Linked DNA regions of Homo sapiens: all the other regions are reported to be linked to region 2. The links are microRNA targets in miRTarBase. Many come from high-throughput screens and were not tested one by one. Region 2 holds a microRNA gene; each other region holds the end of a gene's coding sequence.

Region 1 (5,124 bases), not on the chromosome of region 2:
TGGGGGTGAGGGGGCCAGAATCTCATTCTGTCGCCCAGGCTGGAGTGCAGTGGTGCTATCTCGGCTCACTGCAACCTCCACCCCCACAGGTTCAAGCAATTCTCCTGCCTCAGCCTCCTGAGTAGCTGGGACTACAGGCGCGAGCCACCATGCCCTGCTAATTTTTGTATTTTTAGTAGAGACGGGGTTTCACCATATTGGTCAGACTGGTCTCGAACTCTTGACCTCAGGTAATTGCAAAAAGCTGGGCGTAGTGGCTCACATCTGTAATCCCAGCACTTTGGGAGGCCCAGGTGGGTGGATCACTTGAGGTCAGGAGTTCAAGACCAGCCTGGCCAACATGGTGAAACCTCGTCTCTACTAAAAATACAAAAATTAGCTGGGCATGGTGGCGGGCGCCTGTAGTCCCAGCTATTCTGGAGGCTGAGGCAGGAGAATCGCTTGAACTGGGGAGGCAGAGGTTGCAGTGAGCCGAGATCAAGCCACTGCACTCCAGCCTGGGCAACAGAGACTCCGTCTCGAAACAAAACAAAACCAAAAGTGAAGTAGAGGTTCCTCTTCAAAGAGACTTTCCTCCCTGTCTAATTAAGAAGAAATACCAACTTCTCCTAGGAGCAAAATTTATTCAAAGACCTGTGCTAACATTCTTAAATATCTGCTAGCCATAATAAAGAAATCAATATACTTTGTGTTCTTAGCTCCCACAATTTAGCCTAAATATTTGCCCTGGCATGCTTATACTGGTCCAAGCAAACATTAGGTCATAGCCTGTTCCTCTTCCTTATTTGGAGGTGTTTTTTTTTTTACCTTTCTCAGCATCCCGCAAGTTACTTCCTCCTGCCTGTATTCTCCTTGCCTTTGCCTCTTTTGAAAAGTTCTAAGTTGCTAGCCAATGGGGACAAATAGAGAATGTGAGGTCCCATTCCAGTGAATGGAAACCAGGCACAGCAGTAGGGTGGATGCACCAGGTTATAAATGACCCTGTCTCTTTTGTTCGGTGTACTCTCGTGGCAAAACTGCTGGTGAGTGTACCCTTTCTGCAGAAAGTAAAAATGGCCTTGCTGAGAAAATTAAATATATGTTCAAGTGCTATTTCTTTATAGCACCGGGGAACAAGCATTTCTAACATCCACCCACCTCAGCCTCCCAAAGTGCTGGGATTACAGGTGTGAGCCACGGCACCCAGCCATGCTGGCTCTTGTCTTTAAAACTTCTCTGTGGCTGGGCAAGGTGGTTCACGCCTGTAATCCCAGCACTTTGGGAGGCCAAGGCCAGCAGATCACTTGAGGTCAGGAATTTGAAACGAGCCTGACCAGTATGGCAAAACCATCTCTACTAAAAATACAAAAATTAGCCAGGCATGGTGGTGTGCACCGGTAGTCCTAGCTACTTAGGAGCCTAAGGCAGGAGAATCACTTGAACCCAGGAGGTGGAGATTGCAATGAGCCGAGATCGCCCCACTGTCTGCACTCCAGCCTGGATGACAGAGTAAGACTCTGTCTCAAAAAAAAAAAAAAAAAAAAAAAAAAAGCTCTGGGTGTTTTTGAAAGTATTCTCATTGCCAGGCAGGAACAGGGTGTTGCAGATCCATCCTGACATTTTTCCTGCCTCAAGACATGGATTCAACTGCTACTCAAGGAATCCTGTTTCCTTTTAGTGGAGTATTAAATATCTAGGTGCTGGAGATGTACGTAAGAATTGTTGATGGGCAGCTGGTGGCGGTGGTTCACACCTGTAATTCCAGCACTTTCAGAAGCCGAGGTGGGTGGATCATGAGGTCAGGAGTTTGAGACCAGCCTGACCAACATGGTAAAACCCCATCTCTACTAAAAATATGAAAATTAGCCAGGCATGGTGGTGCACACCTGTAATCCCAGCTACTTAGGAGGGTGAGGCAGAAGAATTGCTTGAACCCAGGTGGAGGTTACAGTGAGCTGAGATTGCACCACTGCACTCCAGCCTGGCAATAGGGTGAAACTCCATCTCCAAAAAAAAAAAAAAAAAAAAAAAAAAGAATTATTGATGGGCACAAGTGCTACTGTTGCTGCTACTACTATTAGACCTTTTTTTTAGTGACAAAGTCAAAGATTTCATTTAAGGTTACTAAATTCAAACTATTCAGACTGAGTATTTTCAGTATGACAAACTACACTGTACTTTTCTTACTCCAACATTGATGGTCCACATTTAACTGTTTGAAAATCAGACTGGGCCAGGGGTGGTGGCTCACGCCTGTAATCCCAGCACTTTGGGTGGCTGAGGATCACGAGATTGCGCCACTGTGCTCCAGCGGGTGATGGTGAGACTCCATCTCAAAAAGTCTTAAGTAACTTCCACAGTCTCAGAGCTGTTAAGTGGTAGACCCAAATTTGAACCAGTGTTTCATTTAAACACTTAAGATCTCAACCTAAGAACAAGCTAAGCAGGGTCTAGGCAATTGTTGCAAGAAACCTGAAAGCTGCAGCCAGAGGAATTGGGAAATTCCGTTTTCCTTTCTTAGCTTGAGAAGGAAAGCACCCAAGGTTACACTTATTGGTGAAACCAGAACTAGACCACAAACCTGAATTCCTAAGTCCTATCACCGTTTTTTTCTTTTCTCACTGCAACCTCTGCCTCCCGGGTTCAAGCGATTCTCCTGCCTCAGCCTCCCAAGTAGCTGGGATTACAGGTGCCTGCCACCATGCCCAGCTAATTTTTTGTATTTTTAGTAGAGTCGGGGTTTCACCATGTTGGTCAGGCTGGTCTTGAACTTCTGACCTCAGGTGATCTGCCCGCCTCAGCTTCCCAAAGTGCTGGGATTACAAGCATGAGCCACTGGGCCCGGCTGGCAGTTAGACCTTCAGAGTCTCAGTTTATATAAATGTAGCATAGGCTTAATAGTCCCAAACCTAACATTGAGGGTTAAAATTACCTATCCTGATGTCTAATGCATAGCAAACACTTGGTTAGTTTTTCCTCTCCTATTAATCTCTAGTCTTCTGTCACTCTCCCTGCTCTAATACGAACTAAGTCCAGGTGTTTCTTATTCCTTGTTCTTCTAATAAACTAGTTGGCCTCTTAAGATGTAAATTATCTCCCTAGATTTCTTTTACTTGAGTTTGCTTGCTTGCCACTTTTACAGCCCAAACTACATTCTAGACAAGATTTCTTCAGTTAACATGCCTTTTATTCAATCCCCTCTCATTTGCTGACCAATCCTCCTTTTTTAAATTTCTTTGGGTACCTAGCAGGTGTATTTATTTCTGGGGTACAAGAGATGTTTTGATGTAGGCATGCAGTGTGAAATAATTATATCATGGAGAATCATATCATGGAGAATCATATCATGGAAATGGAGGGGTGATCATCATCACCCCTCAACCATTTATCCTTTGTTACAATCCAATTACATTCTTTTATTTTTAAATGTACAATTATTATTGACTATAGTCACCCCGTTGTGCTATCAAATAGATCCTTTTTTTTGTACCCCAAACACAACGAAATTACCAAAGCCAAAGGTATTCTAGGTACAGGATTTCAAGTGACTGACTTTTCATGTGATGATGGACTTTATTTCTCCCCTCTACTTCTGTCCAAGGTAAGGACAGCAAAAATATTTGCCTCAATGCCTTGCTTGCAGCAGCAGCCCAAAGGCCATGCTGAGGAGCTGGAGTTCCCTCCAACCTCCCAGATTTTACAGCTCCAAGAGAGATTACATCCTTGCACCGGGGAAAATAGAAACTGTCTTTCCCCATTATCAATGGAATAATGTAGTTCAGTCTGCAACAAAGAGAAACATGAAAATATCATAGATAGGATAATGTTTTACACACATGCCAGCCTGCCCTTCAACTGGCTTTCAATTTTCAGTATCTTCTAATCATGGAAATGCTAACACAATTATTAACTTTAAACAAATTTTTATTACACAAAGGTTGTCACATAATTGGATACTTCTCTACTTTGTACACAATTATTCTCACTCTCCACAGAAAGGCTGCTTAACTTCTCATCTGGTGGTGGCAAGCACTAAAATCCTGATTTTAACAGAATAGTAGTAAAAATGCCTCAGTGATTTAAGTTGAAAGCAGTACACTGGTACATGGCTCTTGTACCCAGTATCAGGAATGTACAAATGTTTTTTATTCAAAAATACAAAATAAATTATCTGTAGGCATGGACAATGACAGCAGTAAACCATTATATATTTTGTCAACTGAAACCAGTAACTGATGGTTATAGTGATTTTCAGCCAGCCTTTTTCTTCATTTTCTCCAACTGACTTCTCTGAAGTTATTGGTGAGGAACACTGCCTTGGGCTTCCTGTCACAGTTCATTAATAAAGGTAAAGCACTAGTCTAGGAGTTAGAACATGCCACCTCCCATACCACCTCCCATTCCACCCATTGCACCCATTCCAGGGTCCTTCTCTTCTTTAGGAATTTCTGTGACTACAACTTCTGCTGTAGTTAACAGAGAGGCCACACCAGCAGCATCCAATAAAGCAGTTCTCACAACCTAGAAAAAAATTTAATTAATTAGTTTTCCCTTAGTAAAATATGAGCAAGACTTATTGAAAATTTCTGTCTGGGCATGGTGGCTCACACCTGTAATCCAGCACTTTGGGAGGCTGAGGCAGGTAGATGACTTGAGGTTAGGAGTTCAAGACCAGCCTGGCCAACATGATGAGACCCCGTCTCTACTAAAAATACAAAAATTAGCCAGGCATGGTGGTGCATGCCTGTAATCCCAGCTACTCAGGAGCCTGAGGCAGGAGAATCGCTTGAACCCAGGAGGTGGAGGTTGTCACTGCCTGCACTCCAGCCTGGGCGACACAGCGACTCTGTCTTCAAAACAAAACAAAACCCTGTTCTGCGTATCTTGGAAAGTATTCTTACTGCCAGGCAGGAACAGGGTGTTCCAGATCCATCCTGATTTTTTCCTGCCTCCAGGCATGGACTCAACTGCTACTCAAGGGATCCTGCTTCCTTTTAGTGGAGTATTAAATATCTAGGTGCTGGAAATGTACATGAGAATTGTTGATGGGCACAAGAGCTATTGCTGTTGCTACTGCTATTAGACTATTTTTCTGGTGACAAAATCAAAGATTTGGGATGTGAGGATACATTAACAAAATGAACA
Region 2 (5,124 bases):
AGGCACAAGTATACAAATTACTCCCACTCACAGGAGAGCAAGACCCTTTTCCCAAGCACGTGCAATTAAAACTAAAGGGTAAACCATGTTCACATCTTAGGTCCTAATGCAGAAACTCACCGATAGCTTGGGAGACTGTCCTCAAACCAAACATCAAAAAATTGTTTTAAGTATAACTCTTACAATGTTACCTCACTAAATCTGATTATATCAAAACTGATTTTTAGATTAAGTCTTTGGGGTAATTAACTCTGGTTACTAAGAAGTCACCTTTTTCAAATATTTCTTATATATGGCAAAATAAATTTGGGGAAGGAATTCCTCAGAACTAAAAATGAGGAATAATACAAAGAAAAAAATCAAGCTAATATCACAGTTCACTTTTCTACAGATATTGCAAGTAAATCTTAAGGATCATTTCCAGCTTAACATCTAATAATGCAATCCTTCTTTATTCTCAAAGTGTGTATTAAGATGTTAGCACAGAGTTACTTCAAGCGTGTTTCTCATTTCACCAACAGCAATGGAAAGCTCTCAGCTGTGTGAACCACCGTCTCATGGTTCCTTTAAAACCGTAAAGTCTCAAATCAAACACCTCCTTAATCATACATTGATTCTGTATATTTGTGCCTGTCAATCCAGTCAATGTACCTAAATGAGGAATGAATGAACTCTCTCAAGTGTGATGAAAGACTATTCTTCTTTGAAGAAACCAATAATAAATGCATTCTTTAATTCAGAGATGGCATACATCTGTCATCAATTGGTATCAAATTTTAATGCATATTAATGCAAAAACACTTATTCTTCCAGTATTAATGAAGTCATGGAATCCAAAGGTACTCCTCAACTATATGTTAATTGATGTGTTGTACTGCCATCCTCTCCCATCCCCAACTGCTATGCTTGTTCAAGAATTCGAGATGGTAAACGAAGCTAGGTAGTACCATGTGGTGGGTATACATGTGACAGCAACCAGTTTGTAGGTCTCATGACTGCCTTGAAAGTTCTTCAAGTACAGCTGGGATTTTTAATAGCATCCCAACTGGAACTGTCACAGTAGCCAGTAGCCACTGATAATGTAACATTACAAATGATGGACAACAATTTCCTATTTTCATTCTTGAATTCCTACAAAACTTGAGTAAGCATTATACAACCCAAAATATTATCAAATTAATCAGTGAGAAAAACTTTTAAGTGTCAAAAGGAAGTACCCTCTTTACCTTTATGACCTTTTTAACAATGGCTAAAATCAATCCATATTACTAAAATGTTTAATAATGTTCATCAACAAAGTTGAAGCACACATAACACAAACTGTAAAAAGCAGGAAATAATTTTTTAAAATTACTTTCCCTAGTACCTGAAAGAAAAGTTTACAACTTTAACTATATAGGAAACCTTTCCCTTAAGATCCAGCCAACTAAAACTGGATGTCACACACAGGTAGCACAAAGGGACAACACAACATTCATCCAGGAGTCTAAATAAAATGACTCTTTCCACTTACACTGCAGTGGCACAAAATAGGAATACAGAAATCATTTCACATTCCAATAAAACATTTTATTTTAACACATAATGCAGAGTTCTTCACCTGTGCATCTTTAGAGGTCTACGGTTTGTATACAAAATGTTGTGTATATACACCTGCCTATGAAAAGTCTATAGTTCTCACCACATTTTAAAAATACAGCCAAAAACAATGTTAGGAACCCATAGAGAGAATCATAAAAATTTTCCCTACCACTAATTTAACATTACTTTCATATGACCCAGCAAAAAGAAATGCTCAACAGTGAAGGATACTAAAATAGTTACAGTAAGGTTTGGCTCACAACAGACTTCTACACAGAAAGCATTTTATTTTAATTTAAATTCATTCTCAAATGTCAAGAAAAAACTAAGGACTCTTATCAACCACTCTGACAAACTCTCAAAATAGGACACTAATAGGAAGATGATTAGCTTGGACTATATGCAAATCCATTCTGAATTCTTGTAAACTGAAACATTTTTGTTCCCATAGGAATTTTAAGCTCAGAGAGGGTATGGCCACAGCTAGCTTTTTTTCCTTTGTTTTTGCAAGTTGTTCCCCCTGTTGCTGATTTTCCTGAAATATCTTACATACAGCAAAGATTTGTTAAACATCTAAACAAACAAATGAATAAATTACAATTACATGAAACTAGGAGTCAGATGGAAACCACCAGTTCTTTACAGGTACCAGCATAAGCTTGCCAGGTATTGTCTATGGATCAAATCTCTGTTTCTGGCCATTTTTTTTTTTTAATGAACATATTAAGTGGCACGACACAATAAGGACAAAATGTGACAACATTATCACAAGGTATGCATTTCAGTACAACTTTAAAACCAGGGAACAGGGCAGTACTGAGTAGAGATGAAATAAACAAACAGAAGCCGAGCCGGTCAGGACCGAGTAAGGTTGAGGTTAGTGGCAACAGCATGTGCGTGGTTTCCAGGAAACCTTCAGTAAGACTGCTGTTAGCCCTAGCCCCGCACCTTGCCCAACCCAGTGTGCTGCGTCTTCTTCCAGCTCCCGCCTGGCTCAGTGCAGCACTGCCCTGCTCCCAGGGGTGCAGCCGCCCAGCCTGAACTCACCTTGGCAGTAGAAGGGCCTGAAGTTTAAAACATGTTAATGCATCATGCCAAAAATGCAATCAACATGCACACTTCATACACTCATGTTTCCAAAGAGATAGAAAATGTGCCACCAATAAGAAACCTCTACACAGAACACCCTCAAAGGAGTTGGAGAAACAATTTTTTAAACACCCACATTTACCACAAAAGTAGGAACACAACAACAGTGGTATTACTGCACCATGAAATTTCACCTAATGGATTAAAGTACCAAAAATAATCATGGCATCACCTACTTTAACTGCCATTATTTGCCCACTTGGTTTGTGGACCATTTTGTTGACAGAACCATAAGCTCCTCGTCCAATTTCTCCAAGGTCTTTCAAGTCCTCTGCAGTGAAATCCCAGTGTTGTTCAGGGGAGATCTTCAGTTTTCCTGATGACTCAATGCTGTGTGTTCTCAGTCTCTCTCTGTTAAAATATTGGGAAGCAATTTTTCCACATTTTAAATAGGTTTTAACTTTTTTCTTTTAGTACTGATTAATGTGTGGGAAAAATGTTTTCTAAATTACTAAAATAGTCTGACCTCCAGGTTTTTGAAGTTTTTCATTTGTGTCATCCTGGTTTTTTACACACTGGATTAAGAATGATCTAGATTTAGGTAGTCAATAGACACAGCTTCAACGGGATTCATAAAAACAAATTGCCAAGAAGATTTTTAAAAATTCCCATTTATTGATTAAACTAATTCTGCAGATCAGTTTTCATTTCTAAATATAAGATCTTATTCAAACTTGGATGATGGTTTATCCAAACAGCATTATCAAGTGAGAATCCCAAGAGCTGCAAACCTTATTGCGAAAAAGTTCTTACCCTATCTTACCCAACATTAGTTATTCCAGTGCCTCAATCTTCAGTTAGTACAACTATTCCCAAGGTTTGCTGTACCTTACAATCACCTGGGGGAGATTTTAAAAATCTCAATGCCCAGGTATCGTCCCATAGCAATTACATCTGAATTATCCAGGGACAGGAGTCAGAAAACAGTATTTTTAAAGACCCCCAGATGATTCCAGTAATGTTTGGGAACTAGTGCCTTAGTATACTGTCCTGTTCTTGTTAATACCATCCTGAGGTGGGAGAACAGTTAACTGAATAGCTAGCTGGCTCTAAGAGGAAAATTGCCATGTGCTATTCAAAATTGAAATTTTCAGCCCTCGTTCGATAAAGCAATGGGATAAAAAATGAGTGGCTCGTAGACAAAAGAGCTCACTCATTACATATTTCCATTAAATAAAAAATCATCTCCAAAATCTCAACCTGGAGATCAAAGTATTAATAACTTCTAACCATGCTTTGTAAAAAAGTAAATCCAATGAAAAATGTAAAATCAATCTGTTTCTCTCTCTTGCTCTCTCTCACACACACACCAAACCCCAATGTGTAGGAACAAACTATCAACCATACACACAATGAAAGAATTCATTAAATATCAACTACATTTTTCAGTTTCATACTAAATGATCAGGATCTCTTTTAAACTCTGATCCTATGATGCAAACAAGCAAAGTTTATGTGCTTGGTCATTATTTTTCTTCTTCCAAAATTTAGGAAAGTTTTCTCCAATTAGTAGAATGGTTTTCTGTAGCAACCTTTAAGGTTCCCAAAAAACTTAGAACTTTAAAATCTACCCCCACTCTGAGAATAATCGTATGTACTAATATTAAGGTTCAAAGTTACACTTCAAAGATTCATACACTTGGTCTAAATAACAATTTACTAAATCAGTGTTCCAAATAACAGACTTTCAAATCATACTAAGTGATAAGCTTTCATTCATACAAGTGCTTTTCAGTTCAAAGTCCTTTCACCCATATTATTTGATACTCTAGCATCCAGAATCACAAGAAGCCCGGAAATCAGTGGCATAAGTGACCATTTAGGTGAAGATGAAGCTGGAACTGATCTTTTAAGATGGAAATCAGGTCTAGGCAAAAATAGGAAACTCTTCTTGGTAATCTTTTTCATGAAGTAGACAGATTAAGCCTGAAAAAAGTTCTAACATGAAGAAGTTCCATGTATAATGATTATTGTTCTATAATCTTTGGCAAGTAAATACTATCTCAATGGCAAAATCACTGGTGAAATATACAGCACCAATCTACCACTGAGGGAAGCTGAAAAAAAGTTAATTAAAATTACTTGTAAATCAGAAGCAAAATTTTTTACAGTGTTCGCTAATTGAAGGGCTGTGGCAGACAGGCTCCAGGAAGTCCTCATGATCCCCACCTTCTTAGTGTTCGTATTTTTGTGTAGGCATATTTCTTTGGGTGTGAGTGGGACCTGTGACTTACCTCTAACCAAGAGAATATGGTAAAGATGATATAATATGACTCTCATGACTACATTGCTATATAATACTTATGCTAGCATTCTTGAGAACTGAAATGAAAGATATTTCATTACTATATAGAAATTACAGAATGAAAACAGTTACAATATTATGTCTTATTT
Region 3 (3,912 bases), not on the chromosome of region 2:
ATAAATTATGATCTACCTACCAATCGTGAAAACTATATTCACAGGTGAGAAGCCAGCATCTTGGCTGTATTGAAAAAAATTCATACGTTTTTCTACTGTGATTTGTATGAAAGGTAACATCAAATCAAGGAATAGATTCAGTAAAGTCAGTAGTGTTCAGTAAGATGATGTAATTAAATTTGTACTAGGGAAGGTTGATGAGAACAAAGTGGGAAAACTTGTAAACATTGCCCAGATTGTGGACATAGGGTTTTTTTCCACAATTGTTGGTCTTACCTTATGCTTGAGCTTTTAGTGATGTTCTTGTGTCCATGTGTTTTTCTTGGTGATTTTTTCTATAGTTGGGATTTTCTTGGTGTCGCCTGGTAGCAATTTGAGTGAACCCTGGTTTAGTTATAGTGGCTTTATCCCTAAATAAATTGAATTGTACTTTGTTATATGATGTAAAAAAAGACTTTTTAAAAAATACAGGAGTCGATAGCAGCAGTTGGTGACGAGATGGCACTCAGAAACGGCGTTGACGTAATTTAGGACGTGGAATCATAAGCGAAACAGCACACTGTTTGAATAAAGAGCGAGTCGGTATTTATATTTGTTTTTCTTTTGTCATGATTATTTGATTTTTAAGTTGCTCCAGCTAAGGCATTTTTTTGTATTAGTATTTCTATTAGGGAACCTTTCTTATTAGGTGGTTTGTATTGTCTGGTTTCTAACATGCAGGTAGCTGTTTGGCAGTTAAACACGTTTAGAGTAATTTGAGTTACAACGTGTGAAACTGAGCAAAAAAGCAGTGATAAGTTTGGGTTACCATACCAAATATTTGTTTTCCCACTGGAAAAAAGTAAGTTTTAGAAAATAGTTAACCTTTGCAGCATTTGTTTACAGTTTACAGTTCCAGAAGTGCGTCGAAATGGATTACATAACTGCTCTTTTATTCCTGGTGTTCACATCTGTCCCAGGCTGACACCTGCTCTTGGCTGGCCCACTTTGGTATGGGCTTTAATTTCACTACCCCAAACACGATACTGTCATCTGCTTTATAATAATGCTCAAGATGCCTGATAAAAATCTCATTTTGCAGCCAGACAAGCCTTGAATCCTTTTGGCACTAACTGCAAAGGAAGATTTTTTTCTCTAGATATGCATTAGCAGCTAGTGCTCCAGTTAGAAGCACGAACTATAACCTTGATAAGTAAACAGCAGCTGGTGGTTAACAAGTGGATCGTCATGTTCAGTAGTTTATACATTATGTGAGAAGTAACGTTCTGATTCTTTTTCTTACACAGAATTGGCAGAGGGGGTCGATTTGGGAGGAAAGGTGTGGCTATAAACTTTGTTACTGAAGAAGACAAGAGGATTCTTCGTGACATTGAGACTTTCTACAATACTACAGTGGAGGAGATGCCCATGAATGTGGCTGACCTTATTTAATTCCTGGGATGAGAGTTTTGGATGCAGTGCTCGCTGTTGCTGAATAGGCGATCACAACGTGCATTGTGCTTCTTTCTTTGGGAATATTTGAATCTTGTCTCAATGCTCATAACGGATCAGAAATACAGATTTTGATAGCAAAGCGACGTTAGTCGTGAGCTCTTGTGAGGAAAGTCATTGGCTTTATCCTCTTTAGAGTTAGACTGTTGGGGTGGGTATAAAAGATGGGGTCTGTAAAATCTTTCTTTCTTAGAAATTTATTTCCTAGTTCTGTAGAAATGGTTGTATTAGATGTTCTCTATCATTTAATAATATACTTGTGGACTAAAAGATATAAGTGCTGTATAAAATCAGCCAATTATGTTAAACTAGCATATCTGCCTTTATTGTGTTTGTCATTAGCCTGAGTAGAAAGGCCTTTAAAATTTTTTTAGAAAGCATTTGAATGCATTTTGTTTGGTATTGTATTTATTCAATAAAGTATTTAATTAGTGCTAAGTGTGAACTGGACCCTGTTGCTAAGCCCCAGCAAGCAATCCTAGGTAGGGTTTAATCCCCAGTAAAATTGCCATATTGCACATGTCTTAATGAAGTTTGAATGTTAAATAAATTGTATATTCACTTTAAAGGTGCTTTTGGTCATTTTATTTTTATTACAACTTCATTATTTACAAAACCCCCCATCCAGATATATTCACGTTAACAATTCTGAGATAACTGCTGCATCACAGTTGCACAAAGGCTGATGAGTTGCAAATGTTCATCAGCACCATCTGCTAGGCATTTGTCAACTTCCTACGAGAAAAATTTAAGAAATTAGCATCCTTCAGGTAGTTAAATGTTCCATTGACATGTGCAAAGTACCTACTTACGGCAAGTTTTTCTGTGATAATAGACTTCTGTTTATCAGATAAGTTATTTTCTACAACCACATCATGGAGTTGATTGACGAGCTGAGTTGCTGCATGACCCTCATCTATTAAATCCTATAATAAAAAAAACTTTTGGTATGATGACTTAATATTCCTTTCCCCAAAGTTAGTAAGCTGACTTTACCTTGACCACAGCTTCTAGTTTGTCAAAAGAGCCACTCTGACAGGCAGCAAATACTCCATCAATTTTCTCAGCTGGTATTACCTAGGTAATTGAATGTTCGGTATTAAAGATGTTTCTAGGTGAGACTAGACATACACTCTGCCAACTGGCCCCCGTGCCCCCAGTCATTTCTGTTCCACACCTAAGTTCCATACTTTCCTGGGAAGGCTTTGGGAGAACGGAAAGGGCCAGAGTAACTCCAGTCACCACTAAGCAACCAAGGTGCTAACAACTGTGCTTTTAAAGCCCTTTAATGGCTTTGTGAACTTCCAAGTTTGGGCACACATGGATTATAGCTTGTTCTGGTCAGTGGATGAAGATTAAGTTTTCCCCTAGCGGCTATAACGATTCCTCAGAACAGTGGCCAAGATCAATCAAAAAGACTGATTTCTTTAAAGGGGAAGTGCCCTTTCTCTCAATGTCTCCATGTAAAGATGCCACTAATGAGATTGGTTTAAAAAGTCCACAATATCCAGAAAATTAAAGAGGATTAGTGGTACCAGTCTTGTCATATGGAAGGCCTACCGTGAAGGTGAAAAACGTCATAGAAACAAAGAGGATTAGTGGTACCAGTCTTGTCATATGGAAGGCCTACCGTGCAGGTGAAAAATGTCACAGAAACAAAAGTTGTTAAGTAGTAGTGATTCTGAAGTGAGTTTTTACATGGGAGTATCCAAAGACAAGTGGGGTACTCCATTCTCTTTAATAAATGATTACTGTAAGTTGGATATGCCTTTTGTTTATATACAACTGGCAAAATAGTTTTCATGTATAAGAACATCTGCTAAAATTGATTTAACTGCCAAAGGCATCTCTTATAAAATCTAAAAACTGAAGGCTGGGTGCGGTGGCTCCCACCTATAATCCCAGCACTTTGGAAGGCTAAGCGGGGGGCGGATCACCTGAGGTCAGGAGTTCCATACCAGCCTGGTCAACCAACATCGTGAAACCCCGTCTCTACTAAAAATATACAAATTAGCTGGGCATGGTGGCAGGTGCCTGTAATCCCAGCTAATTGGGAGGGTGAGGCGGGAGGTGGAGGTTGCAGTGAGTCGGTATTGCGTCACTGCACTCCAGCCTGGGCGACACAGCAAGACTCTGTCTCAAAAAAAAAAAAACAAAAAAACTAACAACTGAAAGTGTCCTTTTCTTTCCTGAAATGTCTGTTACATGCCTGACAAACTGAAAAGTCAGTGCTATCTCCTCACCTCAAACACTCTGATACTCCCAGGTTATTCCCTTATACTTCCTAGTGCAGTACTTGGCACTTGCTAAACACCCAGTATTTGTTGGATGAAAATTTCCTAAAAGCCACAAAAAAGCCAACTAAAAAGAAATTCAGAATATCCAGTACTCTTACCCCGGCAATGTCTGTAATCACTTTCT
Region 4 (5,124 bases), not on the chromosome of region 2:
TAAGCATGGAATTTTACAATTGCAAATATCGCTTACTGCACACCCAGTGTACGCAAAGCCACATGCCACACACTTTACATGTTACCCCATTTAATCTCAGCTCTGCCTCTGACTAGCTGAGCCCTGAGAAAGTTTTTAACTTTTCTGAGCCCTCAGTTTCCTCCCCAGTAGAGGTGGAAATCATTTTGGCCTCACAAGGCTGTTAAAAGGATCCACTTAGTAAAACATGCTAAGAGTTTAGCGAAGAGCCTGGCACACGGTAAGCGCTCAGAGTTTAACTACATCTATCGTTACTATCATCCTTTTTAATCTTCTCAAAATCCGGTAACAAGAAAATAATAATCAGTCTACAAATGGAAAAAAATATATAAACGTATTAAAAGCAGTTACTAAACGACAAAGCAGGTATCTAAACTTCCTGATGTGCTCAACTCCAAAGCCTATGCTCTTGAGCAGTCCATCAACTAAGACAGAGTCAGACCCTCAGTAAACGTTATTGCTTCCCCAGGACACTGTTTCCTAATACAGCCCCTACCCAACTCTAGCCCGGGTTCAAAGGAAAATTCCTCAGCCCTCATTTCGTCCTCCGAACGAGCTAGGAACATGGGCAGCTGAAGCCTGAAAAGAAACAAGTCTCCAATCTTCCCTGGTCCTGTATTTCTTCACAAACTGAAACACGGAGGATTTTTAAAGCGTCTTAACAACTCTCCCACTTCTAATATTATTGGAATCCCTAAGATCAGGGCCCCAGGCTTTTTGTTCTAACCCATCACAATTTTCGATACCCTGAAGGGAACCTGCCTCCCACCTTCCCCGTAAGTGAAGAGTTTAGCGCAGTGGGCCAGATCCCTCTTCCTCCCTCAGAACCTGTTTTCTTATCTCTATATTGAGATCTGAGACTGAGTATTATCAGGTGCCCTGAGATTGGGATTGTAAATGATTTGAGGTTTGTCTCAAACACTCCATATCGCGATTCTCGGGACCGCCAAAAGCCCCGCATATGCAGGATGTGTGCGTGCGGACACTCAAAGAATGCAGATGCTTTTAGGCAACATGTGCCAAACACGTTAATATGAGGCGCCCCACTACCAACAGACGGGGCAGAAACCACCTGGCGGGAGAGATCAGAGCAAATCAGCAAAAAGGAAAAGGGGTACGCGAGGGGCCCGTGGCCTCCAAGCATCCGCCGAAACGGCTCTGCCCTCATCCACGTGAAGGAAGGAAAGGGGCCCCCCCACCAAGTTCTCACAACCGCCATTTTGGAAACAAAGGGGGCGTGGAGACGCTGCCGTGGGCCCGACCGGAAGCGGAAGTGCCAAGGCAGCGGGAGAAAAGAGATTACGGGGACTAACATAATCTCCTTTTCAGAGAAACCAAAAAGATTTTAAAAAACAAAAGTTCACGTCGAGGCATCTGGCGCGCTCGTGCCGCGTCCCCCGCGCCACCTCCGCCAGGACCACGTGGGGCGCAGGGACAGCCGCCGTGCGCATGCGTCACGGGCCCGCGCCCCGCCGCCCCCTTCCCCTCGCCTAGCGCGCGGCGGAACGCTGGGGACGTCACGTGAACGAGGCGCGCGCCACGGAACCAGGGTTGGGGGGCGCCGCGCGGCCGTGAAGTGGGGGGAAGCGAGGGAGAAAATGGCGGGGGGGCAAAGAGCGACGCGAGGAGCCGCCCACACCTCCGCCCCGCGACCCCGGTGCCCTCACCTTGTTTATTCTCGTTGAGCTGCCGCTCGAACTCGTCGAAGTCCGACATGCTGAGGCGGCCGCGTAGGGCCCTGTGCAGCTTTCGCCTCGCCTTGCCGCCCGCTCCAGCCGCTTCGGCTACTTCCGCCGCTGGCTTCGGCTACTTCCGGCCGCCGCCGGCGCTTCGCCACCTCCTACCTAATCAAGCCTCCGGCAGCCCTCCCCGCCCCGCCCGGGCTCCGCCCCCTCACCCGCCCGCCCGCCCGCGAGCTTGCCCCTCCCCCCGAGCCTGGCTCCGAAGCGCCTCGGCTATCTCCGGATACTGGACGAAGGCGAAGCAGGCGGCCGCTTCGGCTGCTTCCGAAAACACCCGAACGTAGGGTTTCGCCGACTTCCCAGGTTTCCGTAACTTTTCCGAGATTATCTCCTCAACGTTCGGAGGTTTCCGTGTGTCCTCGTGTGCCACTGCGCCCAGTCCCCTCTGCGAGTTCGGGTTCTTCCAACAATTCAATCCGTCCCAGTCTTTGGCTTCTTCCACGGACTTGCTCCGATCTTCTCCGCCGGCCCTGTCCAAGCAATCGGCCACTTCCGACAATCCTAACCGTCCCGGCCTTCGGCTCTTTCCGGAGATTTCCGGATCTCGCCCTCGGGCCCCTCCTGGGATTAAGCTCGAGTCCGTGTTTCGGCTCTTTCCGGAGATGCCACTTGCTCACGCCTCCGATCAGAGAACTTCGGCTCCTTCCGCCACCGCTTCGTGAAGGCCTCACTCTCCGGGGACAGCTTCGACTTTTTCCGTGGGTACCTCGGCTCCTTCCGGCTTCGGGAACGGAAAAGGGAAGGAGAACAGAGACGAGATGGATCAGGGGAAGGGATAGAGAAGGGGACGAGGTCCTAGTTCTCGGCACCTGGCTCTCCGGGTGGGGAAAGTGAAAGAAAAAAAGGGCCGGCCTCGCGGAGGGCCTGAGAAGGTTGTGCCAGACAAAAGCAGCAAGAGGGATGAAGGGTGCGCGCGACCGCTGCGGAGGTTGCCAGCGCGGCTTTTTGCGCCTGCGCAGGGTGGAAGCCGCGGGTGAGGGGAAACAGGCTTCTGCGCCTGCGTAAAAGTCGTTCTGTGGCGCGCTCTCCCACTGCTCCCGTGAAGGGGGTTGCGGGGACCAGGTTTCAGTCCCCATTGCGCGTGCGCGAGATTTCCCTTACAACGGTGAAAGTGCTTAATCCCCAGCCGTTAAATCCGGCCACCCTCTTGGTTGTCTCGGCAACCACATCAACGCGCTCCGGCTCTTCCCGCCGCGCAGGCGCGGCAGACGGATCATCTGGCATTACTTCCGGGAGACAGATGATCTGGCGTTACTGCCCCCTGGCGGCCCAACGGAAGTATCCTCCAGACTTGGCCTGGCCGCTAGGTGGCCTCCCTCGCTAGAGGTCATCGACTCACGCCTCTCGCGCCGCGCTCCGGTCTGGGTAGCCCAGCGGGTAGTGTCCACGCTTCTTTTTACTTTTTTTTTTTTTTTTTTGAGACGGAGTCTCTGTCGCCCAGGCTGGAGTGCAGTGGCGCGATCTCGGCTCACTGGAACCTTCGCCTGCCGGGTTCAAGCGATTCTCCTGCCTCAGCCTTCCAAGTAGCTGGGACTACAGGCGCCCGCCACCACACCTGGCTAATTTTTTGTATTTTTAGTAGAGACGGGGTTTCACCGTGTTAGCCAGGATGGTCTCGATCTCCTGAACTCGTGATCCGCCTGCCTCGGCCTCCCAAAGTGCTGGGATTACAGGCGTGAGCCACCGCGCCCGGCTGTGTCCGCGCTTCTTTTCCCGAGCTCTGCCTCCGAGTTTTCTGGGGCGCAGCTGCTTCACTCTCCATCTCTGCCTCCGGGGGGCTAATTACACCGTATCCTACCCGTCCTCCCGCCTGACCACCCACCCCCTTGGAAGCCCCCGCAACCCCGTCACCGTCTTCGGGGCGACGGCCGCCCCCTCCCAGGCACGTCCCCCTCCTAGGAAGAGGCTGAGGCCAAGTTTATTCCAAATTTTCACGTCGTTTTTTAATTTAAATTATCTGAATAATTCTCTGTCTCACGCGGAGTTGGGGAGGTCTGTCCGGGAATCAGGTGGGCAGCTCCTCCGCGGGGCCAGGGCGGAGACGGGGTCTGTACAGTCCCCCACTCGAGGGGGGGGCACCCGCCTGCCTGGTTTTCCAGGAGGAAGGGGCCCGGCGAGGACAGGGCTGGGCAGCCCAAGCGGAAGGGGGTGCCGGCGTTCGGGAAGGGGCCGCGGCCGGTCCGGGGCCGTCGCGCTTGGGGGCCCGGCTAAGGGAGCCCCCAACCCAGGGAGCGAGGAGGAGGGGCAGGGGCGCGGCGGGGAGAGGGGCAGGTCATCCACCGGGGTCCACGGGGGAGGAAGGCCCGGGTGGAGGCGCGGAGGCGTGGTGCGATCACCGCTTGAAGCGGTAGGTGATGGGCAGCAGCAGCTTGCTCTTCTTGAGCGCCTGCACCTTCTTGAGCGTCTCGTCGTCCAGGGCCAGAAAGCAGCGGCGGGAGTACTCGAGCAGGCGCTCCTTGGAGGGGTCGAACTCGCCCACCTCGGCCAGCTTCTCGGGGGCCACAATGAGCAGCTCGGCGATGGGCGTGGTCAGCGCCACGGTGTTCCTGTCCACGCGGTGGTGCTCGAAGGCCCGCGACATGCTCTTGAGCTTCTGGAAGGTGCCCAGGATCTTCTTGTACCGGCAGAGGACCCCGTCGGCGTCCTTCACTGAGGGGTGGAGGCGGGGACACGAAAGTGAGGGGCAGGGCACAAGACTGAGGGGGCGGACACGGGAAGGGAAACGGCCATGGGAAGAAAGGATCTCGGCGAGCAGAGGCACGGGCCGGTGCAGGTGGAGACGGAGAACAACAGGCAAGGAAGGGGCAGAGAGGAGGGGAAGAATCGCAGCCAGATCTTGGACCAGTGGGAAATGGGAAGAGGCAGGCCCAGGAAGGAGAGTGAGGAGACAAAATGAGCCAAGAGGCCGGGTTCAACCCACGCGGTCCCAGCACCCCCCGACACCCCGAGCCATCACCCTCGTCTCCCTGCCTCAGGTGAATTCACTTATTCAAGTCTCACCCTCCCCGTGAGGTAGGTCCTACTGCGCACCTCCTCCTTACTGATGAAAGTTAAGGAGGTGCCCAAGGTGGCCCTGCCCTCGACGGTGGACCAAAACTTAAAAGTAAACCCAGGACAGGCCATGCGCGGTGGCTCACGCCTGTAATCCCAGCACTTTGGGAGGCCGAGGCAGGTGGATCACGAGGGCAGGAGATCCAGACCATCCTGGCAAACACGGTGAAACCCTGGCCTCTACTAAAAATACAAAAAATTAGCCAGGCGTGGTGGCGGGTGCCTGTAGTCCCAGCTACTCGGGAGGCTGAGGCAGGAGAATGGCGTGGACCCGGGAGGCGGAGATTCCAGT

Evidence for each region. The annotated mature microRNA hsa-miR-744-5p reads UGCGGGGCUAGGGCUAACAGCA and lies in region 2 at 2,507-2,528, opposite strand. An mRNA with a match to its seed (bases 2 to 7 or 8) in the 3' UTR can be bound and repressed. Matches are read on the target gene's strand: a 7mer-m8 pairs with bases 2 to 8, a 7mer-A1 pairs with bases 2 to 7 and ends in A, and an 8mer does both.
Region 1: the mRNA of HSPD1 is a reported target of hsa-miR-744-5p. The part of its 3' UTR that is shown has no 7-base or 8-base seed match.
Region 3: miRTarBase lists EIF4A2 as a target of hsa-miR-744-5p. The part of its 3' UTR that is shown has no 7-base or 8-base seed match.
Region 4: miRTarBase lists CCDC106 as a target of hsa-miR-744-5p. Seed matches in the 3' UTR shown: 7mer-m8 at 3,806-3,812.

What each region holds. Positions count from the first base shown.
Region 1 is chr2:197,482,699-197,487,822 of GRCh38, forward strand. It overlaps HSPD1 (heat shock protein family D (Hsp60) member 1), which reads right to left. Exons shown (of 12, transcript NM_002156.5): 12 at 3,886-4,500. The coding sequence ends at 4,348. SNORA105B (small nucleolar RNA, H/ACA box 105B) reads right to left here and starts at 4,205; the gene lies at 4,090-4,205.
Region 2 is chr17:12,079,313-12,084,436 of GRCh38, reverse strand. MIR744 (microRNA 744) reads right to left here and starts at 2,538; the gene lies at 2,441-2,538. MAP2K4 (mitogen-activated protein kinase kinase 4) reads right to left here. Exons shown (of 11, transcript NM_003010.4): 3 at 2,907-3,081.
Region 3 is chr3:186,787,839-186,791,750 of GRCh38, forward strand. EIF4A2 (eukaryotic translation initiation factor 4A2) reads left to right here. Exons shown (of 11, transcript NM_001967.4): 10 at 1-44; 11 at 1,287-2,059. The coding sequence ends at 1,431. It overlaps RFC4 (replication factor C subunit 4), which reads right to left. Exons shown (of 11, transcript NM_002916.5): 8 at 3,887-3,912; 9 at 2,488-2,568; 10 at 2,304-2,417; 11 at 2,062-2,226. The coding sequence ends at 2,131. Among named protein-coding and RNA genes, the nearest start is that of SNORA4, 2.2 kb to the left of the region's middle.
Region 4 is chr19:55,651,736-55,656,859 of GRCh38, reverse strand. CCDC106 (coiled-coil domain containing 106) reads right to left here. Exons shown (of 5, transcript NM_001370470.1): 5 at 3,699-4,430. The coding sequence ends at 4,114. U2AF2 (U2 small nuclear RNA auxiliary factor 2) reads right to left here and starts at 1,825. Exons shown (of 12, transcript NM_007279.3): 1 at 1,707-1,825. The coding sequence starts at 1,755. RefSeq lists enhancers at 1,000-1,079, 2,030-2,699 and silencers at 1,440-1,579, 1,790-1,839, 1,930-1,979.